4 separate regions of the Homo sapiens genome follow, and regions 1, 3 and 4 are each linked to region 2. Evidence: fine-mapped expression QTL. A gene starts in region 2. Each other region holds a variant in brackets. All regions are shown on one strand. Distances are from middle to middle. Region 1 overlaps STAMBPL1 (STAM binding protein like 1). Region 2 holds the start of STAMBPL1 (STAM binding protein like 1). Region 3 has its middle 7.9 kb from the start of ANKRD22. Region 4 has its middle 4.3 kb from the start of ACTA2-AS1.

Region 1 (4,000 bases), 32 kb before region 2:
ACACTGTCCCCTTAAGTGCAACAGAGGCGACTATAGATGCCCATTCTCCTGTGCTGCCACCAATGGCTTCCTATCTCTTGGAGGGAAAGTGATGACAAAACACTGGAATGCAGCAGGAGATTGTGTACTGAATACAATGTATTATTATTCAATAAAGCAGAGGTTCCTAAGCTAAATTTTGAGAACTGAAAATATACCTGGACCCAGATATATAAACTGGTACTCAAAACAGACTATGAAAGGACACGTCCAAAGAAACATTATCTCTGTTGTAGATAGGAAATTGAATGCATCTCCTCTCTTTCATCCCTTCTATTATGACATTGTCTTTCATCACATACTTATGATGACATCTTCCATAATTAAGTATGTCCTGTGCTTATAGGCTTTTGTTGAAACTACTGCCTTAAACTAAAGGAAACTACAAAATCCTAGTTTTATTCCACGTGTATCTGAAAAAGAACAGCAAGATAATACATGCCACAGATGAAGTTAATTATATGAATGTATGTGAAACTAACAATTACAATGAAAATTTGATTTGGCAACCAGATAGATTTGGAAATCTGAAGACCTATATTTCGTACCATTTTTCTAATCAAAGATTTAATTTATAGGTTGATTCTTTAGGACAAGTTTTTATAGTGTCTCTGAAATTTTACAATCTATTTTCTAAAAGGATCATTCCATTAGTAATGACAATAGTTTTATAAAGTTAATCTGTGTAACGTTAATTTCATAATATTGATAACTCTTAGCATGGTTTTATTCTGTTCCACTTATCAGAAGAAATCTAGTACTATTAAAAGTATCCTATGCAGATATATATATATATATATTTATATAAAAAGATCATACCAGTTTTCCACAGAGTATTCCACAGGTTTCTATTCCTCTCACTGTATTAGATTCTGCCAGTTGCAGAAATTTGTGGCAAAGATCTTCTGGCAAAACTACACATCGCAGTCCTTCAACCACTAAATCTAAGAAACAAAAAAGGGAGAAAAGGCTAAAAAACAAACTATATGTCCCATCTTTCAAAATTGTTATTGGCAAACAGTTGCAGTTGGACATAAATTTCAAAAATAAAAGTATCAGGTGTTCCACTTTCCATATTTTATTTTAAAACTCTTAGAAGTAAACATTAACTAGAAGTAAAATTAAATTATGTATATAAATTATTTTATAAGCAAAATCAGAAGGTACAAGCACTTTTACATGTTTGTATCTTGGGTTAACTATTTACATGTTATGTTATCTTTAGGCATGAAGCAAATATAGGGTTAAATGCATAGGCTGCATAGAATGCATCTCATATCCTATAAGACATAGATAAATATTGTGTTTATCATGTTACTTCTATCTTCATGAAAGTTGGTGATCAGTAAGTAAAAGCACAACGTTTTGGTAAACAATCAGCAGTAAAGTAACTTTCAAAATGGTTGCCTATTATCGCTCATTTCAAATAAATGGGAACACAAATTCTATCTGACAGTGTCTGCGAAGAAGAATTCTGTGTTTTGGAAACTTGCCAGCACTGATCTGGCAGTACTGAGCAGCACTAATTCTTGCGGAAACACACGGTCCATTTGGAGGTTAATTATCTATGTGTATGAGATTCTCTCAGTCCAAGGATGATGCTAAACATATTGAGTATAAACATTTATTGCTGAGCAAAGGTCTAGATAAACAATTTTCTCACACCTTTTCTCCCCAGAAAGATGGATGTATTTAAGATGTAT[GTATT/T]TCTTAGTTAAAATACATAGAAGACAAAAGTACTTGAAATTCTTCTCATTTAAAACCTCTGTCAATGACAAAATACTTCCCATTTATTATAGAGTCTCTGCTCTATCGGGGGCATCATATTTCCTGAATTTTAAGATTATATATAGTAAAAGCTAGAGAGTATTGAAAGGTTAATTCTTTCATTCATACCATATTATGCAGGGGTCCTACTACAATTAATAATGAAATGAGAAGGACCCTCCCAGATGCTATAGAAATATGGTTCCATCCGATGAGGCTCAGTGTCTCACATGGGTGCATTTCATCACTTACTCTGAACAGCACTTAGAGTAGCAGCTGGCGTTAAGGCCCTGTTTACAGGAGGAGAGTGGCTAGCATAATTGGTTGCATCACTTTTATTAGGTTGATCTGCAAATACATTCAGCAAGGAATTGTTCTGGTGTGTGGAAAAGCAGGACAAAGCGCTCCCATCAATCTGCTCTGACAGCCCTGAGGTTTGCTGACTTCGCATTTGACCTCGGGCTAACTCTTGCTTCTTGAGTTGATCTTCGAAAAACAGAAACTGCTCCGATTCTAGCTGCTGCTGGCGCATCTGAGCAATCCGCTTCCTTTCTGCCTCTATCAATCTCTGATGCTCCAATTTTTTGAGAATTTCAGCTTTATATTTGTTCTAAAAAGTGTGGCAGCCAGAAGAGAAGGTTAGTTTCCAAGGAGAAACATTGAACTGGAATTAGACATTTTCAGTCTTCAAGCAGACAGAGAAAATGCTAGATACTGTGATATGCCCACAGGGACACTCATGGAACAGTGAGAGAAATACATAACATCAGGGCAAAAGCCCCTTGATCTGATTAACATAGCAGTTCTAAATCCACTGATATTTTACCAGAGACAGGCCATGACAATCAGGATCCCTTCATTCCCTAATGCTTTTAAATACTGGAAAATCAACGTCAAGGTTGTTTGCTCAGTCAGACCAACAAGACCATATGAAACAAAATATCTCACCCCTACTGCACTTCTAATATAGTGGCCACTAGCCACATGTGGTTATTTGAACTTGATTAAAATTAAACAAAATTAGAAATTCAGTACCTCAGGGACACTAGTCAGTCACATTTAAGTACCCAGAAGCCACATGTGGCTAGTGGATACCATATTGGAAAGTGCCAAACAGAACACTTCCATCATCACAGGAGTTCTATTGAACAGTGCTGCCCTAGAACCTTTCGCATTTGACTCTAGAACTCATACTCTGCTGGAAATTTATGGATAAGAAGGAATCACTAAAAAATGGTTATTAAAATGTGTTCCAACCTTCTCTGTCACCACTAACCCAGAGTTTTGCTAAAAAGGAGGAGTCCCAAGCTCTCCAGTTCTAACAAAATATCCAGGCTTATTAGGTCAGATAATATGAAATATTAATGAGCCTTTCAGGTGATTTTGATAGAAACTAGATTTGGGAGCTACTGTAAGATGGCGGTAGCATGGGGGACACAGCTTATAGTGGCACATTCAGGTGCATACAAATCATCCTGGGGCTAATTGCAGTTGCAAATCCTGATTCAGCAGGTCTGGGGTGGGGCCTGAGATTCTGCGTGTCTAACAAGCTTCCAAATGATGCTAATGCTGGTGAAGCAAGGGCTCACAGGCATTGCTGTTTATCTCTCCTAGGCTCAGTCCTGCTATTCTAAACCCACAGAGATTCCCACATGGGTCACCACTGTAGGCTATGAAGTGACTGGTATCAAAGGCAAAACATGCAACAGCTGCAGAGCCTGTTCCTCCCAGGAAGATCATGAAGAGGAAGATCATACACATTGCTGACCGTGGAAAGGAGACTTGAACTGGGCTTTCGTCTCCCTTGCTGTTGTTGCTTTGTCTTACCCTCCAAGAAAATTTCTATCTTTCATATTTCAAGTCACATTATTAATATACACACTTGAGGGACATTTCCAATTTCACCATTCCCTCTACCACTTCGTTAAAACTCTCCACTCAAGCCAGCCTTCCACCTATGCCCATAGAAAGTCAAAAAGCTCAATGAGCATTCTCAGAGATGATGAGATTGAACTGAAGTGAGAGTCAGTGAAGGTGGTAACCCCTAAAGCAAATAAAACACAAACAAAAAAGCAAAATAACATCTATAATGATGCTATGTTGAACGTGAGTATCCCATACATTCACTGGCCAATTTCTTCTTCCAATGCCTTTCTGCCTCTCAGACATTATCATAATGTTCACTCTTTATTAA
Region 2 (7,966 bases):
GAAAATAGGTGTTGGAGTCATATTGCCTGGGTTTGACGGCCAGCTCTATCATTTACCAGCCTATGATGCTGAGCAATTCACATAGCTCATTTGCACATTTTTTAATCTGCAAAATGGTACTTAGGCATAAGGTTGTTTAAAGAATAGTAAAAAGAATAACAACGAACACATATAGCACTTAATTTTGTGCCAGACATTGTTCTAACCACTTTGCATTTACAGCTATTTATTTAATCCTCCCTAAAACCTTCTGAGATAGAAACTAACGTTTCAATTGAAAAGCAAGGAAACTGAGACTCACAGAAGTTAGTAACTTGTCCAAGGGTACACTACTAGTACGTGGGGAAAAAGTATCCTGTTTCCAACCACTCCATCATCATTGAGATAAACTTGTGTTAAGGCTTAGTACAGTGCCTGGCATATAGCACATCTTCAATAACTAACAGCTATTAATAAATATTTGTCAAATGTTTGCAAGATTCTGAGGTTACACCAGGGCTCCGCAGGAAAGAATGCTGTAATCCACTGGTGATGTCTCTGTGGGTGTGGAAGGTATTAGTGATCACACTTGTGCCACAGGTTTTCAATCTCTTTCACATAAAACAAAGAATCCTGATATCTGCCTAAGGTTTTCTTTTCTCCATCTCAATGGGATCTGAGATCAGGCTGTCATCATCAGACACTGGATTATTGCCTTCACTCCCTAATACTAATCCACTCTCCACCCAACTGCCAAAGTGTTCTTCTGACAACATGCTTTCCTCACTTGCTCCCTTTCAAGGAACCTACAATTGGCTACCACCTCAAATCAAAATTCCACCCCCACCTTTCAAGGGCCTTAATATGACATGGAGGAAACCCGCTTTTCACTTCTGTTCAAGTGCTTAAGAGCCTACTTGTCAAATAAATACTTGGTAGGAACGGCCACGTTTCATTATGCAGAGAATAGCTGTGTTTGTGCTACTTCAGAACAGTGATAAGCAGTTTTTTATTTTACATAATATTTTACTTTTATGTATTTATCTTTGGACATAGCCCAATTTTTTAAAATAAATTGAGAATCTCATTTGACTTTCATTCAGAATGAAACAAGCTTGATCAGAGAAGGACATGAAAGGAAGAATTTCAGGAATAAAATTTGCATTATTATTACCCACTAGAAAGTTAATATCCAGGTAAATTTCAGATAGCTTTCTAATCTGTCATCCTGAAAGTGGAACCTGAATAACTGGGAGACTTTCTAATGACAGGAGATGGAAAGTCAGAACTAAAACAAAAACAAAAAAAAAGGAGTCATAACATCCTTAATATTCAAGACAATGCACCCATTTCCAAAAGAGTACCTTGAAAGGTTAACTACAGCAAATCAAGACATAAGAATTACTGGTGTTTATATCAAGGGACTTCTTTTAATAAACACAAGTTACTAAGCAACCACCAGTCAAATTAATGTCTCTAAGCCAACCACATCAATGGAAAAAAATAACACAGATTTAATTTAAAAGTTAGAGCATCAAACAATATGTGTTTTGAAGACTCAGCAGTATGCCAAATGTTAAATTGGCCTGTCCACTTGACATGCAGAGATGGAAGATTGTACTAGACGTTAATCTGATTTGCTTAGAAATGCAAATAATTTCTGACAAAAGCCACATCCAGATGTAGCTACATCCAGATTATTCCTGAGTTGAACATTCTGATGTCAACTCAGGATTTCTGAATGTACATTCACACGTTCAATTGGACAGTTCACATGTTCAGATAGGTGGAATAAGCAAGTCAACAGGTACCAATAGTATTTTTTGTTGGTTTTAGTTTTGTTTTAGAGTTTTGTTTTTGTTTTGTTTTGATTTTGTTACTGTTTCTTCAATCGAGGATGTTGGCCTTCTTAGTTGATTATATGAACTGGGATTCAATTTGATGAAATGTTTGGTGATTCATATAAAGTTATGATTTAAAAAATAGCAGAAGAGGTGATGTAGTAAAAAAGGATGAGTTCATGTCCTCTGTAGGGACACGGATGAAGCTGGAAACCATCATTCTCAGCAAACTATCGCAAGGGCAAAAAACCAAACACCGCATGTTCTCACTCATAGGTGGGAATTGAACAATAAGAACACTTGGACACAGGAAGGGGAACATCACACACTCGGGCCTGTCGTGGGGTGGGGGGAGGGGGGAGAGATAGCATTACGAGATATACCTAATGTAAATGACGAGTTAATGGGTGCAGCACACCAACATGGCACATGTATACATATGTAACAAACCTGCAAGTTGTGCACATGTACCCTAGAAGTTAAAGTACAATAATAATAAAAAGACATTCTAAAATTTGTCATTTATTTAGCAAATATTTATCAAAGAGCTGCTATGCATCAGCCCTAAGGAATGGAAATCTGGCTCTAATATCTTCAGGGATAACCATGAGTCATTTCCTGTAGTTTCAGTTGAAGCCATCTATAAATCTTTCATAAGGTCAAGAAAAAGAAGATAGTAGCAGACAGAATCACAAATCCAGTAGATTAATTAAAATGTCCCTAATTTGTAAATGTACCCACCAGGAAAGCACCTAGCACTTCCTGGACGGAATCTACATTATTTTCTCTCACATTCCTTCTACTTCTCATGTTTTGGGCAAGAATCATCAGTTTTCTTTTCTTGTAAAATGCAATCTCATTTCTTGGATTGTAGCTGTAAATTCTTACAGCTGGGAAGGGTCCTAAAGGAAGGAAATGATCAAACGGTGTTAATTAAGTCCTATGTGCTGAAAGTAAGAAGAGAGAACTATTACTAACAATTCTTTATAACTATTTTTATCAGTCCTTCTTAGGAATCAACCCCAAAGACACTCTCTCCTCCAGAAGCAAATCTCTCTATTGAGGACATCCTCAGGAAACTGGTTCCTCACTACTCCCTCCAAGCCTCCCACAAACCGTAAGAATCCTATGAAACAGGGCAAGAGTACCAAGAAACAGGCCTTGAAGGTTGAGATAGAGGTAAAGGACTTAGGTTATCTGCCTTATAATTTAAATTTTGGTGCTTACTTTATAGGTGAGGATAAGAAAACAAGTTTCTTCTTGAAATTCCCAAGAACCAGTTGCTACATAAATTACAGCCAACGTATACGCAAAAGCAGATTCTTAGTGGCAATTTGCTGTATCTGTGTCTGAACAGAAAACAATCAGCCAATTCATTTTGCAGGTAGATTCCAATAACATTTTATGCCTTTGAATGGAGAAGCTCTCATGGTGCAAATGGTAAACAAAAAGAGCCTACTGCTCAGCGACACATTAACTTGTATTAAAAATAAAGATATGTATAGTGTAGCTACACAATGCCCACTACAATCCAGTGGCAGAGTATATTTTTGAAGTGCAATGTAGCATCCATCCTGAAAACACAAAATTTCCAATGGAAACAAGGTCGGGATAAAAACAAAACACGGTGGCTTAATTTCTGTGTAAAACAACCGTCAAAACCTACCCTCAAAAAAATTGACACGAACAATCAAACATTCAGGTATAATTTATCTGCTGGAACAAATCTACGTTATTGACCTTGACAGGGCCTTAAATCATGAGACCATAAACAAGCATCCTAGTGATATCTATTATGTCTTCGGAAATAGCTTAAAATCCAGGACTTCATGTTATTGTCAGTAATGAGCAAGATGTTTGGAAAGCAGTGTGCTCACTGGGGCTTACTTTGAAAGCTGTCTTTTTTACTTACTACCGAACACTGATTTCCAGGAAGCAAGCCACCCCACCCCACTTCCCAGGCACTTGATTTTTTTTTTCAAACCTCTAGATTGGGTTCCGTTTCCTGAATTACTTATTCCTTACATAAATTTTCTTTTAAACTTCAGCAATTATGGCACCTTAGGCTCTGGGGGTATCAGCAGCGTGGGTTGTTTTAGAGAAAGTTCTGAAAAAAATATGTTTTGGAGACATTCCATTTCTTTGTGCATCTCACTGGGGGCTTTCAGCGAAAGCTTTAAGTTATTCAGGTGAGGGGCAATGTCTTAGTCGCTCATAAAGGGCATAAAAGTAACATCATCTGGAAAGGCATGGCACCTGCTCGGCCGGGGTAAAGGTCCGTTTTTCTAACCCTCGCCCCTCCCTCCTCCACACCGCGCCGCTAGAGACAGTGCAGTGGTCTCTCCCAAGGTCGACATCATCTCCAAGGCTGCAACCCAGGGCTGAACCAAAAAAACAGGCGCACCCACGTATAGGTCACGGCCAGAGTCCCGCCCTGCCACCAGCAGCCAGGTCTTCCTGCCTCCCTATCAAGGTGAAACTAACCCAGAGGGCCCAGCGGAGGGGCGCATACAGGCGGCGCCGATGGAGGCGGCCGATTGCATGACTGGCAGGAAGGAAGCGATCAGCCGCCAAAGTGCATTTTTTCCTCCCCTAGAGCCAGCCCGGGACCGGACGCTGCCAGCGGAAGGGCCGGCGCGCGCCAGGCCACGAGGCAGACGCACCCGCCGTGCGCACTTCCCCGTCCGGTGCGCGCTCTCACTCACGCGCGCGCGCCGCTACTCACTAGCAACCCTTGGTGTCCGCAGCCCGTGTGGGACGGCGACTGCGACGGCTGCCCCCGTGGCTGCCGTGTGGCCTTGGCATCCGTCCGGCTGCTGCAACCCGGGCCGCGGTGGCTTTTGCTGGAAGGCGTTGCAGCGGGGTGATACCGGCACCCGGCGACGAGGCGTCCGCTCGTTTGCCTCGGCCGTGCCTCCTCCCCCTTCTCCTCTGCCGACAGATGGAGCTTTGCTGGTTCCAGTCGCGCGGGCTCCGTGCGTCGTTCTCCTCCTCGCTGTCGGACACCCCAGCGCAGGGGACGAACAGCGTCCTCGCAAGCCCACGCGCAGGCCGGCCGACCCCGAACCTGCAGCAACCGTCCCTGCTGCCGCTGCTGCAGGAAAATAAATTGTCACTGCGATGGTCCCGGCCTCCCCTGCCCCGGCCCCTGGGTGCCGCCTCCGCCTCTGCCTCCGCCCCCTCCTCTGTGGCGGCGGCGGCGGCTTCCCGCATTCTGCAGAAAAAGCTCGCAGGTGGAAGGAAGCAGGGCCCCTGCGGATGGCCTAGAGCCCGAGTGAAGCGGTTGGGTGCGACTTTCGCATCTGAAACCCTGCACGTCTTCTCCCCAGACCGGAACCACCTAAACTCCCTTTTGCTCCACCATCAATTTCACCGAGATGGACAGGAGTGGTGCCTTTTAAGACTGCACAGTACACAAGCCTTGATGCAGCTGACCGTTAAACTGTCACTGGAGTCTGGGGAAGGATAGGGTTTTGGTGAAAATCCCACTTATACTTCATGTTAGGATTCCCTTTTTGATATTTATCCACAACTGGCTACGCCCACTATTAAGCATCTTAGCCCTTCCCCCTACCCCCAATTTGTGTGTACTTGGAAAATAAGAAGTATTAGAATATCTCCTGGATGTTATGTTACTATCACGTGTGGTGTTCTTACTACAGTTCTGGCACTGTGTCAGGCAGTCGGTACACAAAATCTTAGTCCATCTGCCACAACCCTGTATATAAAAGGGACTCATTTTTTGTTTTTGTTTTTGTTTTTTCCATGAACGAGAGACAGAGAAGTAAAATAATTTATCCCAGGTTACTCACCTAGAAAGCAGTAGAAGCTGAAATTTAAACTCTGATCCAACACTGAAAGCTGTTTCTATTGGCTTCACAGGTTCTATTAACTGATAAACATTTTATGGAGACTGCTGCTGCTGGATGAAATAGAGTCGCTTTTCTTGAGCTTGGTTGGGAGCTTACTTCCAAGTGAGAGAAATGGCTGCAGAGTGGGGTGGGGAAACACTGGCTTTTCTTAGTTAGCCTTTCCTCTGGAAACCAAAATTCTAGCCCTGGCTCAGCCACCAACTGAGTTATTTGGTCTCAAGCATTTCACCTTCTTAAGCCTCATCTCCCTGGATTCTTTTTTTTTTTTTAAATGAAGAGTTTGATTGTTGGAGGCAGCCTGCAGCCTTGATTTTTAAGAAGCAACAGTGTTGTTTTGCTTAGTTTTAAGTTGGTTCCAAATGTTGAAGTTAGGAAATTTCACAGAAATTCAGACTTTTCACATTTTCTGTAAAATCGTAACATCAGACATTTGGTCCATGGCGAGTTCTAGCAACCATCAGCTGAAGCTGAATAGCAGGTGTCGCCTTTAGACTGTGAAGACACTCTTCAGTTTTCCACAGTCCCCACCACTCCCATACACCCCCACCTCACTGACATTTGAGAATATGGTAGGCATTTGAGTTTGCAGTATTGAACCAGATAATCTCATGACCTACTGGACAATTTAAAATTCAGTGGTAATTAAGAAGGTTAGCCAGATTCCTAAAAAGCATTATGAAACAAAAAATTCCACGTACGTATTTAGAGTGGTCATTGATCATGGTCTTGCTATCTAGCATCCAAATTCTCATAAAAGCCAAAATGGCCCAATACCCATCGTCCCCTGCTCCCCAGCGGCTAGAGTACCATTTTGTGACCCAACATCAGCCTCAGAGACTCCTGTACAGTTATTTGAATCTGGATTATGTGTTTCAAGAAGAAACATTTTAGAAATGTCTCCATTATCTGTGAAGTGGGTTTTGTGTTCAGGGACAGTAGTGCCAGAGGTAACACTGCGGCAATGTCAGTGGTGTCCTAAGTGAGCTATTTGAATGGTGTGATGACCCACCTGTTGTAATTTCAGCTGCTAAGCTTCCCTTCCTGTGTAAGGAGACTTATTTGCCAAACTTCCTGTCTCTTTGGTATGCTACTTAACGACTTTCCAATATATTTCTCTTCTGATTCAGTTAGCCAGAAATGATTTCAGCGTTGTGACCAAGAACTCTGATATAGCAACTTTAGGTGTGATTTATTTCCCTTTTATTAATTGAGTTAATGAAGAGCAAGCACCAGTGTATTTATACAACTTTTATCTTAGAGAATTTTTAAGTGACCTATAGTTTTACTTGCATTTTTAAAGATTCAATCTCAATAGTAATTTAAAATCCAGATTTCTTTTTGCTCCAGAACTTTTGTTTCTCTTATTTTTGAGACAATTTTACCCTACTAAACCTTGAATGAAGATTTCAAATCTATATGCAAATACACATAAGCACTATTATTTTGCAGATGAGAAAATGAGGGCTCAAGTTACAGAATACATGAAGGCAGAGCAGTGAGGAAATCCTGGGCTATTTTCTGATATGGTAGAACAGGGTTTCGGACCTCCTGAATTCAGCAAGGGTATAATTTGCAAGTAATTACTCCCTTGAAAATCAGAGTTGACCACACTTGTAGTGAAATTCATTCCTGATAGTGCCTACTGGGTTCCACTCCAGTACTGGAAGCTGGACTGGAGACAGTGACCATGTTCCTTCACGGATCCTCAGTAGTGTGCACAGGGGAAGCCTGCTTTCTGAGGGAGCTGAGCTTTCTGTGCTTGTATCTAGATCTTCACAGTGGCACGACATAACTTCTCAGAGAGCAGCATGCCACCATTCAGTGATTTTAGGGAGGAAATCAAGTGTCACTGTAGTGTCTGCTGAAGTGCGATGCCTGCTTCTTAGGGAAGCCAATAACTCACTGGAAGCAGGTCTTCATACCCACAGGTGGATTGAAACTAGGGTTTACTCAGCCAACAGGGACTGGCCCAGTGCCTGGAAGGTCTAACAGGTGACCATCCTGTTGTTTTATGGCAACATGTGGGATTTCCCGTCCCTTACATTTTTAAACGGATGTCGCAGAGCAGAACATCCAAAGTGTAAGTGGTGACCTGGACAACGATGTGCAGTTTTCCATACATCTCATGAAATCTGGCCACAAAGACAAGCGCAACTTTCCCTTTTTTCCTCACTTTGGCCAGCAGTTCCTCTGAGAACTCACGTCTTTCAACGAATCTTGATACATTTCCTTCTGCAACGCCCTTTAGTATCTCCATCACAGTTGCTAACATAT
Region 3 (7,966 bases), 21 kb after region 2:
AAGAGCAGTCTGCAGGCACAGGTATGGGAGAAATTGTTGGTGGCCACCTTTGCAGACAATTTCCTACACTCTTCATGTTCTTGACACTTCAAATCATTAGTTCATCTAATTTTGATGACTATTATTTCACTGTTCTGCAAATTTGATGGGTTTTTTTTTAAAGACAAAGTCTTGCTATGTTGCCTAGGCTAATCTTGAACTCCAGAGTTCAAGCAATCCTCATGCATCAGCCTCCCAAGTAGCTTGGATTACAAGCATAAGCCACTGTGCCCAGCTTATTCTTCCACTTTTCAGATGAAGAAACTGATGTTCAGAAATCTGTAGGTCAAATAAATGCCCAAAGTCATCAATCTTGTAATGATAAAGCCAGGGAAGGGATCTTCTTCTCTCTCTCTCTTTTTTTTTTTTTCGAAGAAGTTGGTGTTCTTTTTAGTTACCTACAGCATTTCTCGTTTTTGCAGTATTGGTTAGGATACAATTTGGGTGTAAATTTAAACAACTTTGAGTTCAAGGGCCAGAAGAGAAAAGTGAAGCCTAAGTAGGTTTAAATTCATACAGGGATCAGAGCAGGAGCTTGAACCAAAGTCCTATATTGGTCTTAGACATCCAAAGCCCCAGAGAAGCACCTGCCACTCCGGCTCACCCAAATAACTCAGCATCTGTGGCCGTGCCTGCAGGGCTCCCCATTATCACATCTGAGTGTTATGACCTGCTGAGTGTTGAGCCCCTTGGATGTGCTTGGCGATCCAGGAGGCAGAGGTGAACTAATGATTGTTTCCACCTGTTCTATGTGATCAGGAGCCATGGGAGAGAGGAGCCCTGAGGTGAAGGACTGGGAAAATGTACAGAAAATCTCACATCAGCTCCTAGCTAATTCAGCCTTCTTGTTGGAACACCTGTGAAGGATTCTGCCTCATGCTGTTTGCCTCTGGGCCAGTGTCAGAGGGGTTTTGCTCTGAGAGGGAAAGATTAAGAACTGTGAATTTGCCCACCATGACATTTATATATAGTGTTAATAACACCAGTGTTGTAATGCAACAGGACAATAGCTGGTTAAGTTGTATTTTATAATAGAAAGGTCAGGGAGTGCAAGATCACAATTAGCAATATGGAGTGTCAATGGTTCAATGGTTCTTAGAGGCCAAAACGAGTCAAGGTCTGGAAGCCGAGAAACCATTAATGATAGCAGAAAGTCTACATTAGTTTAAGGAATAAAGCTCATTCAAATGAAATAAACTACAGTTCCTAGGGGGAGCAGGAGTGTATAATAGTACGGAGGAGGACTTTAGAGGCAAGCATCTGAGATTGAGTCTGAGATGATGTCTGTTCATCTTGAGCAGATAATTTTACCTGATGTCTGTTCATTTGAGCAGATAATTTTACCTCTCAGAGTCTTAATTTCCTTATCAGTAAAAAGGGAATAATAATAGTGTCAGTCTTCTAGGGCTACTGTAAAAGAGCATTAAAGGGTGCCATGTGGATAAGGTTCGTGAGCTATGTCCAGTGAACAGGAATCACTCAATGAATACTAGCCATTATTACTATTTTTTACAAACGTTATTCCAAAAAGCCATTATTTTTCATTATTATCTAAAGAGACTATCATGACGACTGAATAGACAATATGTGTTACGCACGTGGCAGAGGGCTCAGCATATGCTGAGTGCTAAATAAATGAGGACTGTTACTATCAGTATCAAGTAAATGCTAGGTAGTCACTAAAAATGATATTGAAGCCTATTTTATAACATGGAAGGATGTCATATACTTTTAAAAGGCAAGTGTAGATTGTAAAATGTGCACAAAGTCTCATTTTTTGCAAATACATAAATTGTGTACATATCCATATGAAGGAGATTAGGTTATATACCCAAAGAGATGCCATATACTTTAATGGTTAAAGTAATAGATACTGAAGCTAAATCTCCTGGCTTTGAATCCTTGTATTACCATGTATTAGCTGTGTGACCCTAGACAAATTACTTGATGTCTCTGTGCCTCAGCTTTCTCATCTGTTAAAAGGGGATGGTAATAGTACCTACCCCACAGGATTGTTGACCCTGTTAAAAGTGTTAGTACACGTAAAGGGGTTAGACTATTTTCTGGTACAACAAATACTATCTATATATTTGAAGATGCTATGTGTGTGTGTATTATATGTATGTGGCAGAATTCTTGGAATTTTTTTTCTTTTCTATTTTCCAAATTTCAAAGTTTTTATTTTAAAGACTAGAAAATCAGTTGGGATCAGTTGAAGCAGTATTTCTCAATCTTTTTTCATTGTCCCCCACCAAGGAATCTTTGTAGACTTTTTCTTTTAAATTATCCTTCCTCCATAAATTTTATTACCGTATATATATACTGTATATCCATTTATGTACTTGAAGGGAACCAGAATATGCCATTCCAAAATATGCTACATTGGTAAAAAGATAATTTTAAGTTGAAGACATTTGTGATTGAACAAATTTAGAAAAGGGGAAAAAGAAAAAGCAACTTTGAAGCTTCCCTTTTCTGACTAAAGGAGCAACTTCTGGGAAACAAGATTGTCACAAATCCTTTTCAGGGCATGTCTACTCCCAGAAGAGAGAGAGAAAATAAAACCTACCCCAAATCTCTTCTCCAGGAGGGTTTTATGACCCTGAAGGAGATGAAAGACCATTTTGTCCTGTGTAGACATTTTCACAAACTTTCTTATTGCCTGTTTTTTCTCCTGCAAATGCATTTATTTTTCCAAAAAGTCATTTGTTTCCCATAAGTGCCTTTATCCCTTTACTTATTAAAATGGTATATAAGCCCCAAATTCTAACCACCCCTTTGAGTTACTCATCACCAAGCTCTCCCACATGTACGCATGTTGCATGAATGAATAAACATTGTAATTTTCTCCTGTTAATCTGTTTTTTGTTAGTCTGATTCACGGGCCCTGGTGGCTAAACATAAAGAAGGCAGAAGAAAGTTTTTTGCCCCCTCCCCTACATATTATATTTCTATCTGTGCTATGTTTATAAGGATAATAGACTTTTTTCCCCTCAAGAAGAAATTTCATTTCCTGGGAAAACAATATTACTCTCATTGAGAATGTATGAGTTAAAATACAAAAAACAACCCCATATTAATGGTCAAGGAAGAAAGCTATAGTGTCTAGGAAGTTTAGTAGGTCAAAATCCTGGTAGTAGCAATTCAGATACACAAACAAACCTGTTGATATTTCATGGGTTATTTACCACAAGGGCTGTTTTGAGTTTCATGCCTGGAATAGAAATGAGCAGGCAGTTCTGGCCCCAAAAATGCCCATCAAAAGATGAGTACAGCTGTTGAAAGAGTAACATTAGGAACGTTATTCATTATACACCTTCATTAATTTTATGTAAAGAATTATCAGAATCTCAAACCCAAACGCATTTAAATATAAGTGCAAAAGTGCACCTGAAGCCAGATAAAATGTGAAATTTCCCATTGTGCTATTTCCTCTCTAGGCTTTTGTGTTGGAAAGATCAAAAATTGTCTTTTTTCTAAGTGGCCCAGTACCCCTAACTTTTGAATCACTTATTGGAATGCTTATTCAAATGCAGGTTCCCACATCCTCACCTAGAGATTCTGATTCATTACTTCTCATGTTGTGGGGGGTGGGAGGGTATTTACATTTTAGTAAGCCCCCAAGTTATTCTTTCTTTTTTTTTTTTCTGAGATGAGTCTTGCTCTGTCACCTAGGCTGCAGTGCAGTGGCTGGGTCTCTGCTCACTGAAACCTCCACCTCCTGGGTCCAAGCAGTTCTCCTGCCTCAGCCTCCCAAGTAGCTGGGATTACAGGTGTGTGCCAACTGTGCCTGGCTAATTTTTGTAGTTTTAGTAGAGATGGGGTTTCACCATGTTGGCCAGGCTGGTCTCGAACTCCTGACCTCGTGATCAGCCCACCTCAGCCTCCCAAAGTGCTGGGATTACAGGCGTGAGCCACCATGTGTGGCCCCCAAGTTATTCTTAGGCA[C/T]ATTACACAATGATGCTGAGGATGATACTAATGACAATGATAGAGAAAATACATAGATTACTGAGTGCCAGACACCAAGAATTCTTGCTCATCTCAAGGAAAAGGAAATCCTAGGAAACTGGTTCAATACTGGATTTCTTCAAAGCTTTGGAAAGGCTCAAGACACTTATAATTTGATTTAAAAAATAAAGATTTGTGATGTCTCTTATACACTAAATGTCAGCCGAATTTCTCTCTGTCACAGTTTTATTAGTCTTTTTAAATACTGCATCATACACCTGGCTCAAAACATAATTTTGGGGTTAAGAAATGTAAAGTAGAGGAGAAAAGAGGCTAAGAACATGGAAAAAAATCTTCTCTATAGTAGTATGATAAGTGCCTTATAAAATGGTTGGCCATGAATGAAGTTTTAGTCTTATAGTTTTTAAGTCTTTTAGATGCTCAATTCTTAGTCCTTTCAAAGCAATTTTAAAGTCGACAGAATAGAATGTTTTCTTTCAGGTTGGTGAATGGGTTCTGTTCACTTGTTTTGGTGGATTTGTGAGTGATAGAGGAAAAGAAAGAATGTTTTGATTTGATAATGAGGTATGTGATAGTATTTCTTTGGATAGCTGCCTTATTTCATGATAAAAGGTTGGTTGTAAAAGGTCTGAGTATTACCAAGAAGTAGCGGGGAAGTAGGTCGGATTTTAGAGAGGAAGGATAGGCATCTGGCCAACCTAAAGGCAGACTGCCATGACCTTAACAACTTAATTTAAAAAGAGAAGCAAACCTTCTCCCTCCAACACAGTCCAAATAACCCTTTATTATATATAAAAAAGGACAAAACAAATAAACAGACAAAACCTTGTGAAAATATGAGACTACATTTTATAGACTCAGAGTGGAATGTGATGCATGAACATTAAGGACCTGCCAGGGAGTTGAGATACAACATCTCTTTTTCAACCTGAAAAGGCACGTGAAATAAGAAAAAAAATGTAGTGCAAAGTTTAAAGTAGGCAGCACCCTTCATCTTAGGTCAGAGTAGTAGACTTATACCATAAAAAGTATAGCTTGTCTCATACTGTGAAACTGGTTTTACTACACAATTCCTGAGTCACTGGAGGAGTAATGGACAGTTTGCAGAAGCAGGTGACTATTTCTGGAAACAGTCATCGAGCACAACAGGATTTCTCAGTAAGGATTTATCAGTAATAGAGTTATTTCTTATTCTATTTTTACCAAGAAATGTAAACTCCCTTGTCTTAGATATATTATCTCATAAATTAAGAAACACAAATCACAACATTTCAATGACTATGGGACATTGATCATGACATGTACTCTGTGTGTTTTCATTAAAGCAAATGATAATAACTAATGCTGCAAGTACATGGTAGAGGATGACAAAGAAATAGAACACAGCAAGAAATTAAGTGTTGCATAAGTGGTAAACAATTAAGTGGCTTATTTTTAATTTAAACTTATAATGCCAATATTTTTATTTTAAGGACTGGCTGATACCATTTCCTCCTCCATAGAAAAAGTTTCTTAGTTACTAGAAAATTCAAAATTGATTCCAAATTTTACAAGATTTTTTGAGTCTTGGGAGAGTTAAAGTGAATTAAATTAGAGACCAGGCCTGAAGAATCCCTGAGCACACAAAGTCAGTCAGGCCTCATAAGTGACCTTAACCTTGCTTGATTTGCAAACATAAGCAAAACTTATTTGGGCCTTTTCTTTTAAATCTCTATATTAAAGAAAAAGGAAACTTAAAGTTAGCTAATCAGAAGTCACCACCTAATTAGCATATGGCTAGGGACTTTTCAGCAGAATAAACCAAATAAGGCAACTGCATTACTATAATCAATCAAATATTTTCTTTGCTTTAATTCCATGTTCATCTTTGTTCCCCTTGCATTTCCTCCAAAGAGATCCCAAACCACTTCTGGTTTGGTGCTGTCTAATACATGAATTGTTATTTGTTCAAATCAACTCTTTAGAGTTTTATTGTGCCTCAGTTTACCTTTTAAAAGGAATAAAGACCCTATGTTAGTGTAAAGCAATAATTACTATTGCAATTTGGCCTCTGACTCCTGTACTTAACTTAAAGTTAACATTCAAAATCAAAAAGCCTCCACAAGTAAGAGAAAAATAGAAAAAGATAGCAGGGTTCCAATGCTTAAAACTCAGAAACATAAACATCCTGATTAGCAAATGTACTTATTTAATTAAATAGTAACTGTCAACATTAAAAGGCATACAATAAAAAATGTCCTTGAGTGAGTTAAAGAAGAAATAACTCTGTACAACCAAGGACTTTACAAAGTTTTAGAGGAAAAAAATAACTTTAATAAGGTTTCCCAACTCTTCTATTTCTTACATTGAGGATTATTAATCTAATGCTAATGACCCTCAAAAAGCTTAATCTCTAGTGTAACCCTTACTCTAAAACTCCAGAATCATATAACAAGCTTTCTATTGGCATCTCCACTTAGTGTGCTAGAAATATGTTCCTTAAATAAAATTTGTGCATACCTGAGCTAATCATCTCTTCCCAGGCTTTCCCTAATCTTGCTCTTCCAGAGTTTTCTTTGAAAGATAAAAATCTACCAAATTTCCAAAGCCAGATACATGCATATTATCCTTGTTCTGCCATTTCCCATGTATCTTATATCAGATGGATAATTCTGTTATTTCTAGCTTCTAAACATCTCCATAGTACTATGTTAGTCCAACTTAAGTAAAGAAAACAACCTAGTTATTTAAACACAAAGAATTGAATGTCTGGAATTGGTTAAGTAGGTATTGGAAGACTAGAAAGTAAAAAGAGAATATTAAGGTAACACAGAGATAGAATTGCAGGAACAGCTACCACCCCTTGGACTGAGGGAACAGAGTGAGGTTGGGGTTATTAGAACTTAGGAGAGAAAAGGGCCTTGAAATTCTGGGCCCCAGGCCTTGAGGAGGGGCCATTTCTTGGTAGCTGCTCATACCTCAGAATCGCAAGGAAGGAATTGCATGAATTTGGGTTCGGGGAGAGAAACAATTAGTGCTGGGCACCTCTGAAAGGTATAAATAGGCTGGTTCTGGGAATGTGGAAAATAAGCTCGATCAATTGCTTTTTCTTGGATGAAGAGCTATTGGTGGGATGAGGCCGATAGGATTGCAAGCATATAGAAATGAGTAGATCTCTTTCTCCCTCTTTAGCGTTGTAATCTCACATGGAGTGCTCCTTAGAAAATAGACCAGGTTTCAAGAAAGGGTCATATATGCAAAGCAATCTCCAAACAAGGAAGGAGCCAAGAAACCAAATAATAAGGCAGACAAAATCAGTTTTTTGATAAAGGGTAATTTATTGGGGGAACTTACAGACAGAAGTGTGGCCTGCAGTAGCAAGACAAATAGATCTCCACACCAATACACCCCAGACCCCGGGCTTATATATCATAAGGAAAGGGGATACATGCTCTATAGAGACAATTAAAGACAACCCCCCAGAACAGGCAAGAGTGCTGTGTGCATCATAACCTATATTTGTGTGATAACATCAAGTTTGCTTTGGTCTAAAGGCAGGATTTACAGTAAGTATGTGTTCTTACACTAAGGACAGTAAATAAAGTAGGAATCCGAAGGCATTTATGGGACTGGGGTTAATGAGAAGTCAACATGGTGGATTAGCATCCAAGATGAAGTTAATTTTGTCTCCACATACCAGTAGGAAAAAAAAAAAGCTAGCTTGCAGAATGCCAGGGTAGGCATTGAAGAACCAAACATAGAAAAGTGTGTTCAATGCTAGGAGATAGCTTAATAACTCATAGTTGGCAAAGTCTGTTATTTCTACCTCCTAAACTCTAGAGTTTATCCTATTCTCTCTATCCACACTGCTGCTCTTCTGCCCCAGGTAACTATTATCATGCAGCTGACCTAATGCAATAACCTCCTAACTAGTTGCTGTTTCTTTTTTCCTGCCTCAGATCCACTCTCTGTACAACAG
Region 4 (7,966 bases), 47 kb before region 2:
TGACATTAATTCACATCATGCTGCCATTACTGTGAGCAGATGTGTGGGAAGAGGCATTATTTACTTAAAAATAATCCTCTGTTGTCTTGGGAGGCCGAGGCAGACAGATCACCTGAGGTCAGGAGTTCAAGACCAGCCTGGCCAACATGGTGAAACCCCATCTCTACTAAAAATACATAATTAGCCAAGCGTGGTGGCACGCACCTGTAATCCCAGCTACTCAGGCATCTGAGGCAGGAGAATTGCTTGAAACCCAGGGACAGGGGTTGCAGTGAGCCAAGATCGCATCATTGTACTCCAATCTGGGCAAAAAGGAGTGGAACTCCGCCTCAAAATAATAATAATAATAATAATAATAATAATCCTCTGTTGTTAATGTGGTATCATTTGTGTAGCTAGGAAATTCTCTTTAGAAGAATTTCTAACAGAACAGCTTGGAGAAGAACGTCTGACTGTAGTTAGGGAGGAGGCTGTCTGGACCAACACACACTTGCAGGCAACCAGAAGCCATTGCTGCAGCGCAGCTCAGTTTATTCAGAAAGAGACAGCCAAAAAAAAAAAAAAAAAAGAGAGAGGGAGAGAAAATGGGGCAGCCTGAGATAGGGTTCTTCCTTTTCAGAGTATGAAGTAATGTTTATTCCTGGGAGAGCAGAGTCAACTTAAGTAATGTCTGAAGAGCACTATGAGCTAGGACAGAGAGCAGTGTCAAGGAAATAGAACTAGGCAAGGTTCTGCCTGGATGGAACCTGCAGCCAAGTGAGGAAGATGGGCACTAAATAAGCAGTTGGGTACATTGTCAGGGGTTCAAAAGAAGAATTATATGGGGTACTGGCTTTTATAGCCATGGGCTCTAACTTGAGCCAGGAGCTCAGGAGAGGCTGCCTCCCTGAGAAGATAGTGCTTAAGCAGAAGCTTAAAGGGTAAGAATTGAGTAGACAAAAAAAAGGGCTGGGGGCTAGAAGGGGTTAAGGTTTGGGAAGGGGAAGTAGGACCTGCATGGGATGTGTTCCAAGCAGAGGCCCAGAGATGTAAAAGTGCTGCATACCTGGGAAAAAGAGAACCCCAAAGAACTGGACCACACACACAAGTGTGACCATGACTTCACTACAATTTTCCAAAGTAATATTCATAACATTTTTTCTATGAAAAAATCAGACACCAATTTCAAGCAATGGAAGCAATGTTGCATGAGAAGTATGGCATCTCTGGACCATCTGCTTTTCCTGAGCATTTCACCTTTCAGGTTAAATTATTGCTTTTCCTGAGCATTTCACCTTTCAGGTTAAATTATTCATCTCACATCTGGGAAATGAACATGCAAACATTGCCACCTCTCAGTCTAATTTACTCATGGAGGCTGTAGCTCTCCCAGAATGTCCTCCTTAGAGCAATTTCTAGCCCCTTCTTGGCTAAAGGGAATAAAAATGATTACTATTTGTCTGGGTTTGAAACAATGCTATCCTCAAGGAAAACTGATGATGGAACAGGCTTCCGTATCGTGAGGTTAATGACAGTTTTCCAGAGGCCTAAAATTCAGGGGTCCTTAAGCAGATTTCCTTATCCTTGGAGAAAAGTATGTGGTATTGCAGACACACCACATCAAAAGGTGTTCTTTTTATACTCTTCTTAGTTCTTGCCTTCTGTTTCTTTCCCTGCACATTTAGTTTTGAGCCTTAGTCCTCTGTCCCTTCATTGAATCAATTATTTTTCTTCCTTTAAGACCTCTCTGCATATGCCATAACCTGAAATTCCCTACAAAATGACCTAAAATCATGTAACTTCAGGCCTTCCTTTAAAAAAAAAAATGACATCACCTACTCAGGCAAAAATATATTAAACAAGTAAATTCTATTTTTCAAATTTAACATGAGCTCTTGCTCTTAAGACTTAAAAAAGTCCGTGATTTCAGAGAGATGCCTCAACATAGTATTCTTCCTTATGAATGCTTAAACCACTGACTTTGATGGAAAGCAAGAGTAGTATTCTAAAGTGCCATGACTAGTGCCTTTTGTTGGTTGCTCTCTCTTTGTATTTCTAATCCTACCCAGCTGAAACAGCTGACCTGACTATCCTTGATAAAAATAAATTCTCCCTCTAAACATGGTGCTAGTGACCTTGATAAAGAGTCAGGACTGGTGTCCCACAACACTAAGAGAGTGATTGGAGTGAGTGAATTCTGGAGGCCTCAGACATCTTCATCATCAACTTTATTTTACTACTGAAATTTGACTTTAGAGGAATTAAGCTGATCACATATTGCTCTGTCAAAAGGAGAATGAGATGCTACTTTACATTTACTAGGATGGCTGTAATAGGATGTAGAGAAATCAGATACTTTATATGTTGCTGTTCGGAATATAACATGGTACAGCTGTTGTGAAAAACAGTTTGGAGGTCTCTCAAAAACCTAAGCCTAGAGTTACCGATAACCCTGCAATTCCACTTCTAGGTGTAGATCCAAAAGAATTGAAACAGGTACTCAAACAAATGCATGTACATGCATGTTTATAGCACTACTACTCACAATAACCAAAAGGAAATGTCTTTTTGGTTATTGTGCCCATTAATGGATGAATAAACAAAATGTCATCAATATCCATCAATGGATGTCCATCAATGTCCATCAACGGATGAATAAACAAAATGTGGTATATACATAAATTTATATACATAATTCATCCATAAAGATGAATAAAGGACTGATACATACTACAACATGGATAAACCTTCAAAATGATACGTTAAGTGAAAGAAGCCAGACACAACAGCTCACATATTGTACAATTCTACTTGTATGAAATATCCAAAATAGATAGATCCATATAGAATGCAGATTGACAGTTGCTAGGAGCTGGGGGGGAGAGGGAGGGAAGGGGAGCAACTGCTTAGTGGGTGATATGGTTTGGCTGTGTCCCCACCCAAATCTCATCTTGAATTGTAGCTCCCATAATTCCCACATGTTGTGGGAGGGACCCAATGGGAGATAATTGAATCATGGGGGTGGTTCCCCCATATTGTTCTCGTGGTAGTAAGTCTCACGAGACCTGATGCTTTATAAGGGGAAACCGCTTTCACTTGGCTCTCATTCTCTCTTTTCTGCTGCCCTGTAAAACACGCCTTTCGTCTTCCATCATGATTGTGAGACCTCCCCAGCCAAGTGGAACTGTGAGTCCATTAAACCTCTTTTTCTTTATAAATTACCCAGTCTCAGGTATGTCTTTATCAGCAGGGTGAAAACAGACTAGTACAGTGGACAAGGGATTTTACTCTGGAGTGACAGAAATCTTTTGGAACTAGATAGGGACGGTGGTTGCACAACACTGAATGTGCTAAATGCCACTAAATTGTTCATATTAAAATGGTTAATTTTAAGTTATGTGAATTGAGCTTCAATAAGTTATTTTTTAAAAATAAAAAACATACTGCCTTGGAAAGAACCTTGATAAGTACAAAATTTTATTGCTGAAGACAGCCTGCTGAATCAGTTGATTCACATGCCTTATTTCTGTAGGTAAGGAAATTAAATTTCCTAAAAGTGATATAATTTGCCCATGGTCTTTCCCAAAGTCAAGAGCACAGCAAATGTCTTCTAGTTGCTTGCTTTGCTTTCCTTGTCAGCCTTTATATTAGAAGGAAACATAATTGAGCTTTTTTTCTTTTTAAATCAATCTGTAAATGCCTTTTTCTCTTGGAAAAAGTGCAAAGGAGAATTTTTAAACCTCCTCTTCAGGCTCAAGAATATGAATTCACCATGCATTCCATTGGTACATCTGGGACCCAGTGAGACAATGAATAATTCATGTAAACAACTGTAATTTTTCACTGCCATCTCTTGTTTACCTGATAGAGATGCACGGGTAATGCTCCTTGATTGAGAAAAAAAAATCTAATTATCTCCATTTGGTTTTAGAATGTCTTGTCGTCCAGATAATGTCAAGGCATTTACTTCAAACAAACAAATTAAATAAAGCCAGTCTGCAATGCTCTTAATCTACCTTCCCTCCCCCAGAGTCCTTCTCTGTTTTTTCCTCTCTTGTCTTCTGCATCTCCTATCCCCATCCTGAAGTCCAGCAAGCTGTAGTGACAGACCTTAAGAGTATCACAGGCTTCCTTTCTAAATAATATTCCCTTCCCTGGATTTTCTTTCCCTTTTCCATTTCTCTGTCTGGTTATTCAAACATATACAGGAATATGGATTTTACTAAGTCCTTTAATTATAAAAACATTACAAAATTAAAAATATTATAATTATATAGCAACATTACTAATATGAAAATATATGGCTTTAATTAAGAAATGTTTTTTTGTCAAACAAGTTTGTTCTTCC[A/G]TGAGGTAAAATTTAATACCTAGTATTATTTAATCAACTGGCAATTCCTTTTGAAAAATATCCTTTTAATGAGTAATTTCTTAAATCTATTTGAAGGCATCTTCACACCAGATCAAAGGTAATATAATAAAAGCTATTCACATTCTCATCAGAATGGTACTTTTTAATATAGTAACTATGGGATCTCAGAAGATGTACAGCAGAGCCTCCATATGGCACTGAAAAAAGACAAGAAACTAGCTAGTTGGCACTCGCATAGTTACGGATCAAATATTGGTGCCCCCGCCATTAATATGCTGAAACCTCATCCTCGTTGCAATGGTATTTGGAGGTGGGGTCGTTGGGCGTTGGGAGATAATTAGGTCATGAAGGTAGGGTCAGGCCCTCGTGATAGTATTTGTGTCCTTATAAGCAGAGACATGAGAGATGATTTCTCTCTCCCCCATTTGAGGGTAGGGCAAGAAGGTAGCCATCTGCAAATAAGGAAGGGAGTCCTCATCAAGAACTGGACTATGCTGGCACCCAGATATCAAATTCCAGCCACCAGAACTGGGTGACAGAAATACAGTGTTGTTTACGTCACCCAGTTTATGGTATTTTTGTTGTAGCAGTCCAAATGAAGGCCTGCCTTTTGATAGTTTAAAAAACAACAACGTCTTCTTGGACATCAGTATGCTAAATCTCTAAGAGCCACTAAGTCATGTTTTCATCAGCTCTCCCCGAGATAATATATTCTGGCCTTATGAAGAACAAAAGAGTAGAAAAGAAAACAAATTTTAAGAAATTTGTTGCAAAGAGCAGAAAAGCTCTTTGCATCTTAGTTGTCTTCCCAGTAAATAACAAGCCAAATTCTTTTAAGAACAAGGAGTTGAAGGTTTACCTTTCTTTCTTAATCATTGCCAAATGCATGACATTTCTCACGCATTCTTTTCACAGAAGATATTCTCTTGCCAGATAATTCTGCAAGACATGCCAGAAGAGAAACATCTGCTTTCCACATTTAGGACCTCCTCAGCTGGTTTTGCAACAGAAACCTCAACCTAAGGTCAAATCATTGTAATAACACAGTCTCCAACACAGTTGATGTGGTTGCAATGTGAAATGAATTGGGAGAAAACAGAAGTGAACCAGTGTGGCGCCAAATAAAATGTCAAATTTCCACAAGCAAAATCCTACTAAAAAGAAACTAGGAACAATTTGAGTAGCTGAGAATAATCCACAAACATTCTGCTTTGCTCTTCTACAACTGACAAGGCCTATGGAAAGAATGATTTCTGCCCTGCATGACAACAAAGAAAGCCATTTCCAATTCAGTCTGTAAGAGAAAAGGAAACAAACAACTTCAGCAAATATTTACCGGATACTACATTAGTTTGTGAGGGCTGCCAAACAGAATACCACAGACCAGATGGCTTAAACAACAGAAAATTATTTTCTCACAGTTCCGGAGGCTGGAAGTCTGAGATCTAGGTTTTGGCAGGGATGGTTTCTTCTGAGATCTCTCTCTCTTTGGCTTGCAGATGGCAGTCTTCTTTCTGTTTTCCCATGGTCTTCCTTCTGTGTATGTCTGTCCTAATCTCTAATTATAAGGACACAACTCATACTGGATTAGTGCCCACTCTACTAGCCTCATTTTAACTTAATTATTTGTGTAAAGGCCCTATCTCCAAACTCAGTCATATTCTGAGGTATTGGGGGGTTAAGGACCTCAACACATGAATTTGGGGGACACAATTCAGCCTATAACAAATACACATGAGGTGTCAGGCACTGTGTGCAAACTGACTAGCACTGAAAATCAAAGGAAGTTCTTAATTGTTTCTTTTTTTTCTACAGAAACACAAATCTGAAAAGAAATGAAGAACCATCTTTGCCTTAGGATGTGGCAAATGGAGCTTTGGAACTGATTCATATTCAAAAGAAGGATCTCCTGCCCTAGCAACACAGCAAGACCTCATTTCTACAAAATAGAAAAAAAATAGCCAGGTGTGGTGGTGAGTGCCTGTAGTCCCAGCTACTCGGGAGGCTGAGATGGGAGGATCGCTTGAGCCTACGAGATCAAGGCTGCGGTGACCCATGATTATGCCATTACACTCCAGCCTGGGCAACAGTGTGAGACCTTGTCTCAAAAAAAGAGAAGGTGCTGTCTGCCTGTTGTGAAAGAGACCTTCCATAGATAGTTTATCCAATGAACACTGGTGCTCATGCACATGTGTGTGTAGTGGCGTCTCCAGGTTGGTTAACAGGGTCTCTGCCTCACGACCAGTCCATTACTTAGTGATGTGGTCACATTTCTGTTGGTTCTTTCAGACACAGCCCCAGGGCCTCATTCTGCCAGCCAAAGTCAGGCTCTGGTTTGCCGCCTCCAACAGTCCCACTCTGTGAGATCCTGGTTAATTTGGTTTGTACTTGGCAAAAAAAAAAAAAAAAAAAAAAAAAAAAAAACCTACAAAAAAGTGCCAAGAATGTCTCCTTTATTTAGGAAATACAATATACTTTCTTAGTGAAAATGAGTTCTCTTCTAGTTTGCTATTCAGAAGGGACATAATGGTTTTGCATACTCATAGCTTCTCTTTCTAGTCTTTCTGGAAATCTAAGATGCTAAATGTTCTTGGCCCTCAACTGAGTCCTTTCTATCTTTAGGCACCATTCAATGTCCATAGCTTTTTCATCGGACAACTCTCATTTTACATCCTCTTAGTGTATTACTATAATTTTTAATTCTATACAAAGGATCTCACTCATTTCTCAACTATCCATTGTCCCAACAATTATTTTTACTTGAATAAAGAATATAACATTTTCCTTTGATCAAGCATATCAGAATATCATGGTGTGTTTAAGTGTTAAGACACTGAGGACAGCACCACTCAGGAAAAAGTGAGGTGTCTATGGAGCCAGCCTTGCAGAGTTAATCTGCTCTTAACTAGTGGTGGCCATAGACTAAAGTCTCCATGCACAAGGCAAGCCAAGCTCTACTTCTGAAGTCTGATACCTGAGCTCTCCATAGCTAGAAGATTCCATGAAACAGAAACAAGCCACTGACTTGCCCATAGTAGGTGGTTCTGTATAAATGAGAACAGGAACAGAATTCAGGTGACATGATACCAGAATTGAGAACTAGACAAGCAGGGAGGGTTGATGCATTAGTCCATTCTCATGCTACTATAAAGAACTGACCAAGGCTGAGCAATTTCTAAAGGAAAGAGGTTTAATTGACTCACAGTTCTGCATTGCTGGGGAGGCCTCAAGAAACTTAAAATCATTGCGGAAAGGGAAGCAAAACACGTCCTTCTTCACATAATGGCAGGAAGAAGTGCTGAGCAAAAGGGAAAAAGCCCCCTATGAAACCATCAGATATCCTGAGAACTCACTCACTATCATGAGAACAGCATGGAGGTAACCACCCCAATGATTCAATTACCTCCCACCAGGTCCCTCCTACTATGATTTAAGATGAGATTTGGGTGGGGACACAGCCAAACCATATCAGATGTTAACCCATCCAAGCACAGAGTACAGGAAATACCACTCTGGAATATGGAAATCATTGAACTAAGCAGTGGAAGCTAGTACATGGAAACATGAGTTGTTTAGGCAACTCAGATACAATGTCATGAGGAAAGCAAAGGCAGGGAG

The links. PIP is the estimated chance that this variant, and not a neighbour inherited with it, causes the effect.
Region 1: its variant is the best candidate, but not a certain one, in a credible set for the expression of STAMBPL1 in whole blood (INTERVAL, PIP 0.77).
Region 3: its variant is the best candidate, but not a certain one, in a credible set for the expression of STAMBPL1 in whole blood (TOPMed, PIP 0.51).
Region 4: its variant is the best candidate, but not a certain one, in a credible set for the expression of STAMBPL1 in atrial appendage (GTEx, PIP 0.59).

Annotation. Positions count from the first base shown.
Region 1 is chr10:88,911,517-88,915,516 of GRCh38, reverse strand. STAMBPL1 (STAM binding protein like 1) reads right to left here. Exons shown (of 11, transcript NM_020799.4): 6 at 2,059-2,416; 7 at 859-983. Among named protein-coding and RNA genes, the nearest start is that of ACTA2-AS1, 19 kb to the left of the region's middle. The variant GTATT/T (reference allele first, on the strand shown) is at 1,743.
Region 2 is chr10:88,877,218-88,885,183 of GRCh38, reverse strand. STAMBPL1 (STAM binding protein like 1) reads right to left here and starts at 4,939. Exons shown (of 11, transcript NM_020799.4): 1 at 4,546-4,939. LOC124902551 reads left to right here and starts at 4,520. Exons shown (of 1, transcript XM_047426134.1): 1 at 4,520-5,450. The coding sequence starts at 4,762. The coding sequence ends at 5,289. It also overlaps the pseudogene PTCD2P2. RefSeq lists enhancers at 2,011-3,210, 4,231-4,340 and a silencer at 4,921-5,050.
Region 3 is chr10:88,855,799-88,863,764 of GRCh38, reverse strand. No RefSeq gene overlaps it. Among named protein-coding and RNA genes, the nearest start is that of ANKRD22, 7.9 kb to the right of the region's middle. The variant C/T (reference allele first, on the strand shown) is at 3,988.
Region 4 is chr10:88,924,430-88,932,395 of GRCh38, reverse strand. No RefSeq gene overlaps it. Among named protein-coding and RNA genes, the nearest start is that of ACTA2-AS1, 4.3 kb to the left of the region's middle. RefSeq lists an enhancer at 22-121. The variant A/G (reference allele first, on the strand shown) is at 4,328.